2 linked regions of the Homo sapiens genome follow. The protein of the gene in region 2 purifies or fractionates together with the protein of the main gene of each other region. This does not show direct contact. Each region holds a gene or a part of one and is shown on either strand. Other genes may lie near its edges.

Evidence for each region. The genes of interacting proteins can lie anywhere in the genome.
Region 1: the proteins of RFFL (region 2) and NEFH purify together in Homo sapiens (affinity purification with mass spectrometry, with the first as the bait; one large-scale study listed by BioGRID). This does not show direct contact.

The regions. Positions count from the first base shown.
Region 1 is NC_000022.11:29,486,718-29,490,217, reverse strand, and holds part of NEFH (neurofilament heavy polypeptide), read right to left. Parts: intron 1,370-3,500; coding exon 1-1,369. UniProt on the Homo sapiens protein: Neurofilaments usually contain three intermediate filament proteins: NEFL, NEFM, and NEFH which are involved in the maintenance of neuronal caliber. NEFH has an important function in mature axons that is not subserved by the two smaller NF proteins.
Region 2 is NC_000017.11:35,010,700-35,016,187, forward strand, and holds part of RFFL (E3 ubiquitin-protein ligase rififylin), read right to left. Parts: intron 4,065-5,488; coding exon 4,041-4,064; intron 1,451-4,040; coding exon 1,269-1,450; 3' UTR 1-1,268.

The sequences.
Region 1 (3,500 bases), on a different chromosome or scaffold from region 2:
GCTGTCCTTCTTCTCCTCTGTTTTTGGTGTGGCAGGGGCTTTCTCTTCCTCTGCCTTCTTTGGGGGCTCTTTGACTTTCACCTCCTGGGGCTTCTCCTCCTCCTTCACTGGGGACTTCACCTCTTCCTTTTTTGGGATCTCCTTCTCAGGGGCCTTGGCATCCTCCTTCAGGGGAGATTTCGCCTTCTCTGGGGACTTGACCTCCTCCTTGACAGGGCTTTTGGCCTTTTCAGGGAATTTGTCTGCAGGGGACCTTGCTTCCTCCTTCGCTGGAGTCTTGGCTTCTGGAGACTTCACATCAAGAGTCTTGGCCTTCTCTGGGGACTTGGCCTTCTCTGGGGACTTAGCTTCTTCCTTCACTGGGGACTTGGCCTTCTCGGGGGTCTTTGCTTCTTCCTTCACTGGGGACTTGGCCTTCTCAGGGGACTTTGCTTCTTCCTTCACTGGGGACTTGGCCTTCTCAGGGGACTTTGCTTCTTCCTTCACTGGGGACTTGGCCTTCTCAGGGGACTTTGCTTCTGCCTTCACTGGGGACTTGGCCTTCTCAGGGGACTTTGCTTCTGCCTTCACTGGGGACTTGGCCTTCTCAGGGGACTTGGCCTCTTCCTTCTCTGGGGACTTGGCCTTCTCAGGGGACTTTGCTTCCTCCTTCGTTGGAGACTTGGCCTTTTCCGGGGACTTGACCTCAGCTGGAGATTTTGCTTCTTCCTTCACTGGGGACTTGGCCTCAGCCGGTGACTTTGCTTCTTCCTTCACTGGGGACTTGGCCTTCTCTGGAGACTTGGCCTCAGCCGGTGACTTTGCCTCTTCCTTTGCTGGGGACTTGGCCTTCTCGGGGGACTTGACCTCAGCTGGAGATTTTGCTTCCTCCTTCTCTGGGGACTTGGCCTCAGGCGGTGACTTTGCCTCTTCCTTTGCTGGAGACTTGGCCTTCTCAGGGGACTTGACTTCGGCTGGGGATTTTGCTTCCTCCTTCTCTGGGGACTTGGCCTCAGCCGGTGACTTTGCCTCTTCCTTTACTGGTGACTTGGCTTCCTTCTCTGGGGATGCAGCCTCTTCTGCTGGGGGAGACTTTGTTTCTTCTTCTCCCCCTTCTGCCTCCTCTTCTTCACCCCCTTCTTCCTCCTTGCCCTCCTCCTCTTTGGCCTCTTTCTCCTCTTCTTCAGTCACTTCTTCAGTCACTTGGGTCTCCTCTGTCTGTTCCTCCACAATCACAGTTTCTTTCTCAGACTTCTCCACCACTTTGATCTTCTCTTCGCTTTTCACCTTTATGTGAGTGGACACAGAGGGAATTTTGGGGAGTCCTTCTGGAAGCGAGAAAGGAATTGGGCCAAAGCCAATCCGACACTCTTCACCTTCCAGGAGTTTTCTGCAGGATGGATCACGGAACACATTAGTATAAACTCAGGGCAAATTCACTATTTGGGTTCTTCCTAGACTATCCTGAAGGTCACTGACATCGAATGATATGGGTTTTGGTGGAACAGGAATGTGAATGGTGGGCATTATGAGACTAGAGAAAGTCACTTGGCAAATCATTCCAGTGACCACCCAGAATGTGTACCCCGGTGGGACTGGTCTTTTTTTGTTGATGTTGTTGTTTTTGAGAGGGTCTCACTGTGTTGCCCAGGCTGGAACAGCTGGTCTTCTTCAACACAGCTAAGCCTGAAACTTTTGAAATAAAACAACTTTTGCCCCATAAAAAATGGCCCTCAAGAGAAAGCTCCTAAATAAATTTAACAAAAGTTAAATTTATTGTCCCTCAAACTAAAATATTATTCAAGAGAACCCTGGGAGCCTGAGCAAACAATTCCACTTTTTTTTTTCCTTTTTTTGAGACGGAGTCTTGCTCTGTCACCTAGGCTGGAGTCCAGTGGTACAATCTCAGTTCACTGCAACCTCTGCCTCCCAGATTCAAGCAATTCCCCCAGCTTCAAGCAATTCTCCTGTCTCAGCCTACTGAGTAGCTGGGAGTACAGGCGCACGCCACCACGTCCAGTTAATTTTTGTATTTTTAGTAGAGACGGGGGTTTCACCATATTGGTCAGGCTGGTCTCGAACTCCTGACCTCAGCCGATCCACCCGCCTAGGCCTCCCAAAGTGCTGGGATTACAGGTGTGAGCCACCGCACCCGACCACAATTCTACTTTTATAAATTTGGGTTTAAGAGGTCTTAGAACGCTCCCATTTGAATCGCGAGTGTCTCTCATCACCCTGTATTACCATCTTTTGAGTTTCAGGAATAGGGTAGAGGCCGCAGTTTCTCCTCTTGGCTTTGCTCCTCACTAGATGGGTGACCTTGGCCAAGACACACCAACTCTTTGAGCCTCAATTTCCTCACTGGAAAAAGAGGGTCATTAGAGTCCCTACGTCAGAGGGTTGTTTCAGTGAGACAATGAATGGAAAAGACTTGGCAGAATGCTTGTCTCAGAGTAAGTGTGGGGGTTACCCCTCAGACTAGTACTTCCCAAATTTAGCAGCACACAGATGACCGGGGATCTTATCAAAATGCAGATTCTGATTCAGCAGGTCTGGGGAGGGGCTGAGCGTCTGTCTTTTGTTGTTGTTGTGTTGTTGTTATTTTTGAGACAGTGTCTCACTCTGTGATGACAGGCTGGAGTGCAGTGGCACGATCATAGCTCACTGAAGCCTCCAACTCCCAGGCTCAGGTGATCCTCCCACGTCAGCCTCCTGAGTAGCTGAGACTAAAGGCATGTGCCACCATGCCCAGCTATTTTTTTTTTTTTTGTATTTTTTGTAGAGATGGGGTTTTGCCATGCTGCCCAGCTTGGTCTCTGAACTGAAACAATCTGTCTGCCTTGGTCTCCCAAAGTGCTGGGATTACAGGCATGAGTCACTACACCCAACCAAGAGACTATCTTTCTGATAAGCTCTTGAATGATGCCAATTCTGCTGGTTCATGTGCCATGCTTTGAGTAGCAAGATTACAGACGAGAGCCAAGAGGTAGGAAGCCACAGGTCACCAGTCAGAACTGGGACAAGTCCTCAGGGAATCAGTCCTGCTCCCTAGCCCTGCTCCCCCCGGTCTTATTCCTCAGACTGGATTTCTCAAGGCTGCCACTGACTAAGGGTTCCCTCTGTAGCAGCCCAGTGGTACCTGTGCTTCCTGGATTAGCTTGGGAATGGGATTAGCTCATCTTCCTGACAACCCTATGACATGGTTGCCCTTATTATCATCTCCACTTTATATCCCCAAGAAATGAATGCTTGCAGAGCTAAGAAACTCTAAAGGACAGAGTTTGAAAGGTCCCTGACTCAAGCACCTCTTTTCCCTTCAAAGCAGGCCTCTGGCTGGCTGGATCTGGGGAGGGGATAAGGAACTTCCACCGTCTAAATCATTTCAGAATGAAAGTAAGTCACTCTCAAGACTCATTGGCTGGGCACAGTGGCTCACGCCTGTAATCCCAGCACTTTGGGAGGCCGAGGTAGGCGGATCACCTGAGGTCAGGAGTTCGAGACCAGCCTGGCCAACATAGCGA
Region 2 (5,488 bases):
CAAGACTGTACCACTGCACTCCAGCCTGGGCAACAGAGTGAGACTCAAAAAAAAAAAAAAAATGCTTTCTCCCTGACCTGCCCCCAAAAATCAGTGGGCTAGGAAAGGGAATGAAAGTAGGGTCTCCTCACTCCCCACCAACCTGGGAAATAAAGACTTGAACTGTCGGCTTACAACAGAATCCAGTCTCATTCAGTACCTCCTGAAAGCTCTTAAGTGCTCTGTCTTAACATTTGCTCTCCAGGAACTTCAACAGCAGTCTGGCCAGAGAAGAGCACAGGCTCTTTGCCTAAATCTATTTCTTCAATGAAACCAAATTTAAAACTACCATGGATAAGGGAGGGATTTCATTTTCAGCGAAAAGTGGCTTAAGACTTCTAGTTGGGAAAAGGATCAGAAGCCAAGCCAAAATTAAGGAGAAGGCCACTGCCTCCACCCATTGCTTCCCCTTTCCGCATAAACTAAGGATGGTGCAAATCAGGTCCCAAGAGAAGCAGCAGCAGGGATTATGCACGCACTATCCCTTGCAGACAGAAACAAATTTCCCAGCAGTTTGGGAGCCTGATGTTTTGTTGGCTCCCAGAGTCAGGTCAGGAGACCAACAGCTTCCAATCCCAGCATTTAATGAAGTGGCTTTTAACAACTTTGAAATTTTTCTATAGCATTTGTATTTCATTTCTCACCAAAGATAAGTTTACTGGTCTAAAATCTGTCCTAAGGACCACTATCGGTCTGGTAAACTAACATTTTTGGTCCAAAGAAACAAATGGATTTAGGCAATGTAGCAAGAGACTTTAGCAAAGATAGTTAAAGCACAGAAAGCCGGAGAGACCAGAAATTTAAATCCGAATGTGCTGGGGAGGAGGACTTCTGATTGATGAAACACATGGGCAAGCATCTCCCATATGGGGTGGGGATGGGTTGGGTACAGGAGGAGGGGTGAAACTGTCTAGGTTCAGGGAGGAAGACAGGACCCAAGTTCTGGAAAGTTCTCTGTTCATCAGTTACCATCATCACTCCAAGATCACTGAACCAAGAACATACCCATGTGATTTATACAAGTTCCCACTGGCCTTGGGCTTTGCCAGCCAAGAGGTACACCCCTGGGAAGACAGGCATGCTCAGGGGTGACATGGCATCTTGCTTGACCTGGTTTTGGGAACCCTGCAATATTTCTACTAGCTTGCTCCTCTGCAAGCTGGCCAACCCTGAGCCCAGACACCCCAGGCTATTTCCCTGTAAGGCACTGAAGAAACCGATGCAAGCTCTCAGGACCGGAAGACATGCACAGCTCGGATTACATACTGCCGGCAGATGGGACATTCATTCATGCGCTTGCCACACTTGGTACAGGTTACCATGTGGCCACACTCCAGAAGAACACAGTCAATGGGTGAGTCCATGCAGATCTTACACAGGTTCTCCTCCAAGCCTGATGGTACTGCTCCCCCTGTACAAACACACAGGGCAGAAAAAAAGGGGCAGAGGAGTGAGGAGAATGTCTTAAGTGTATAGGGGTGACTGGGGGAGGGAGGTGGGAGATAACAGGTACATTGTAAACAAAGTCTCAGTGCACATGCTTCCCTCAAATAGAGCTCCTCCGAGGAAACATTTCCTCAATAACCAACTCTGGTTACTTGTTTAATCCACACTTCATCCCCTCCAACAGGTAAAGATTTGAAAAGTACACAGCACTTGTGGATCAGACACATCCCAGAACATGAGAACTAAGGCAAAGTTCTCAAAGCTTAAAAGAAATAATTTTCAGACTGTTGGGGCTGTAATATAGTGAGTGTGTGAGTGGCACGTAGGGACTCATTATCCCCTGAGGCAGAACAGGCTAAAAAGATAAAACTGGTTCAGAAAAGTTTAGATAGAAATGGAACTGTGATGAATGGTTCATTAAGGATCACAAGGCTTTATCTATAAACATATCCTCCATTTAATAAAGTCAGGGATCATGGGGGACCCCTCTGCTATCTCACAAACTACTCCCAGGTTTCCTGAGGAAACTTCCTGGTGGAGAAACTTGGCAGAGATTACTGCTCCCTCTTTCTACCCCCACAAAACTTTTTTATACCCCCATGACTGCTTATCACATTGGATTAAAATTTTGAGTTTGCCTACTTACTCCCAGAGTAGACTATGAGCTCTTTAATTCAACATATTCAATCAATTTTTACAATTATATGCTTAGCATTTATTCCATGCTCCAAGGTTAGATATTCATCTTTGAAGCCCCCAATGCCAGTTATATGGTAGGTACTCTAAATGTCTGATGAATGAACATCTTCCCAAGGGAATGACAACATCCCACATTTACTGAATGCTTACCGTGTGCCAGGCAGGGTCCTGAAAGCTTTGCATGTGTTAACTCACTGAAGCCTCACAAAAACTATAAAGTAGGACCTCTTGTTATTTTCATTTTATAGATGAGGCCAACTGGGGCAAAAAAGTTAAGTGGCTTGCCCAAGGGCACAAAGCTGCTAAGTCGAGGAGCCAGGATTCAAACCCAGGCAGGCTGGCCCCACAGCTCCTGCTCTAGAATGGCCTTCTGCCTAACTGCCCTAAGAGTAGAAACTATCCAGACAGTATCAACTGCTGAGTGCACAGGGTTCTCAATAAATGCTAACTGGCTTGTGTCACTAGCAGAATATAGTGGGCATGACCAGTATCCTAGTAGAGCTGACCCAAACAGAAAAAATAATGTTCAAAAGCCCAGCCATCTCCAATATGTCTTAAATTGTAGCCTGAAGTAGGTACCCATAAAAAGGAACTGATCTCACAGAAGTCACCTCTACCATCTGGGGGTTGGCCAACCCATAGAGGAATTCTCCCTTATTGCATCTATACTTTCTCTTTTCTGGACTATTAAAAAGTCAAGAAATACTTCCCCCTAGGAGGTAGGCTGGGTGTGAAAGGGAGTGAAACCCATTTGCCTCTTTTGAGGTGCTGTTGGTCCTAACAGAGGTTTGGAGACTATACAAATACCTAAGATGAATGGGAATAATTTATAATTTTCAGTTACTCATTCTCTCAGAAGTAACAACAAACACATTAACTCAGTTGTCAGCATTCTCCCAGGGAATCAGAAAAAGAAAGGAAGCACCAAGTAGATCAGCCTGATCTTGGTACCGGTGATGCTGGGGGGTTGGAGGGTGGAGGTGGGTCTAGAACTCCAAATGGTTTTGGGGAATTGAGAAAAGCTCAACTGTTTTTTATGTCTGATTAGAAGTAATCAGACATAAAATTGCCCATTCTGAGCAAAAGGCCATTTTACTAAATAAATTTGGGAAATCTTCTGAAATAAGTTTTAAAATGCTGCAGGCTAGTCCAACACTACTCTTAGAACGTTCTCTCTTGGAAGGGAGTTCACAACCATATACCCTTGAGGCTTTTGAAAACACATAGCATATTTTAGAATGTCCCCACAGATGGTCAGGAGTTCTGCAGTGTGTTCTGGGAGTACCTGAGGGCCCAGTGGTGGTCTTTAAGTGAGTGGCAGCTGAGCTGAGATATATAGCTTGTGCCCAGAGAGTAGCACATGTGTTAGCTCCAGAGTAGCTCTAACCATTACCAGCCCTGTACAAACAGGGCTGTCTCAGGTCACCACCCTTTCTTTTTGGTTAGTACCAGAAGCTGCTAAACACCCTGATTCCCCAGAAGGTGTACACAGAGACCCTCCCTACCCAGACCAGAACTGAAAACACCAAGATTTTAAAAAATGAGCTGAGTGTGATACATGCCACCCCTCCTCTGTTTCAGTGTTTTACAAATGTTGGCTTATGAGCTCAGGTAGCCCAGGGACATGCACATCAGTCAGTCCGCCCCTACGTATGCTCCACTCTGCTTCCTGCACAGCGAGCAGAGAGAATTTCTAAAGATGGTGAGAGGCCCCCTGGGTCTCAGTGAGTTTCCCACACACCCTCTCTCTGGGGGCTCAAATGCTCAGAATTCTTAGATTACTAAAGGGATTGGGGTTGAAGGAGGGGAAGGACAAAAGGGCCTAAGCCCATTCCCAAACAGAAACAACTACATACCGTTTTGGTCTTCGGCACCACTGACTGAAAAGGAAAGAGAAGGATGTCTGAATAGGTAAGGCATGATGGTACAAATACAGTCTCTTACTGCCCTGACATCATTTCTGAACTCTTACCACTCCCTGCTGGGAACCAGGCTTGCCAAGAGCCTAGATGGACATCTGCCCTCTACTCGCTCTACATGCTCAGAACTCACACAAAGCTCCTACTCGTGCATCTGGTCTACTTTTATTTTTTATTTTTTTGAGATGGAGCCTCACTCTCTTGCCCAGGCTGGAGTGCAGTGGCATGATCTTGGCTCACTGCAACCTCTTTCTCATGGGTTCAAGCGATTCTCCTGCCTCGGCCTCCTGAGTACCTGGGGACTACAGGCACATGCCACCACTCCCGGCTAATTTTTTGTTTTTGGTGGAGATGGTGTTTCACCATGTTGCCTATGCTGGTCTTGAACTCCTGATCTCAAGTGATCCACCTGCCTCAGCCTCCCAGAGTGCTGGGATTACAGGCATAAGCCAACACACCCAGCCTGGTCTACTCTTAGGAAAAGGTATTCCACCAGTTTGCACAAACTGCCAAGTAGAAGGATACTGTATATGTGCAATATCCTTTTCTATTTTGAAGTCAGCATTAAAGTCAAGAAAGAATGAACTATCTAGCTGTTTCAGTCAGTCAGAGAATCTGGATAAAGTTCCCACGTGGAGTCATCTGTTCTGTTCCCCAGGTCCTGACGACTGGAGAGAAGACTCTTGAAACAATCCCAAAGGGAAAACAGACTCCATGTCAGTAGGCCTCAGTCTGTAATCGGGTGAAGAGTCAGTCAGATGACCCCTAACACTGATGAATTTGAGCTACTGGTAGAAGAGAGCCTGAAACCTGACTTCAACCACTCTTACCAAGCAAGGAATCAGTATGTTGCTCTGTAGGAACCAAATCAACTGGGGATGGGAGGAAAGGAGAAGATTCTGTGGTGAAATAATTTCAGGAAATGCTAAGTTCAAAACAGCCAAAACACATTTCTCTTCTGCAGGACTTCTCTGCCTTTAATATAAAAATCTACCATAAATCAGTAATGAAGATATGAGGTATTTTTCCCTAAACTCATTTAACCACAGACCCAGATATTTTCCTGGGCATCTCCTGAATGATACAGTGTAAAATGCTCTGGGAAATGAACAAAAGGAAGAGCCCAAGTGCAGATGGAACAGCTATCTTCTCCTGCCATGTATGTAGATTCACTTTCTACCTCCCAAATCTTCAGAACAAGCATTCTTATTCTAAGGTAAGAAAACTTACAAGGTGGTGGTGAGTAGGGAGGGGATAGCATATGGTGAGAAAGGCTATGGACTTAGACCATAAAATTTTCAGTTAAATTTTACCTTTCAGATAAAGGGGTGATGCTAATAATGTCTATTTCATAGGTTGCTCTAAGGAATAAATACATACATGCA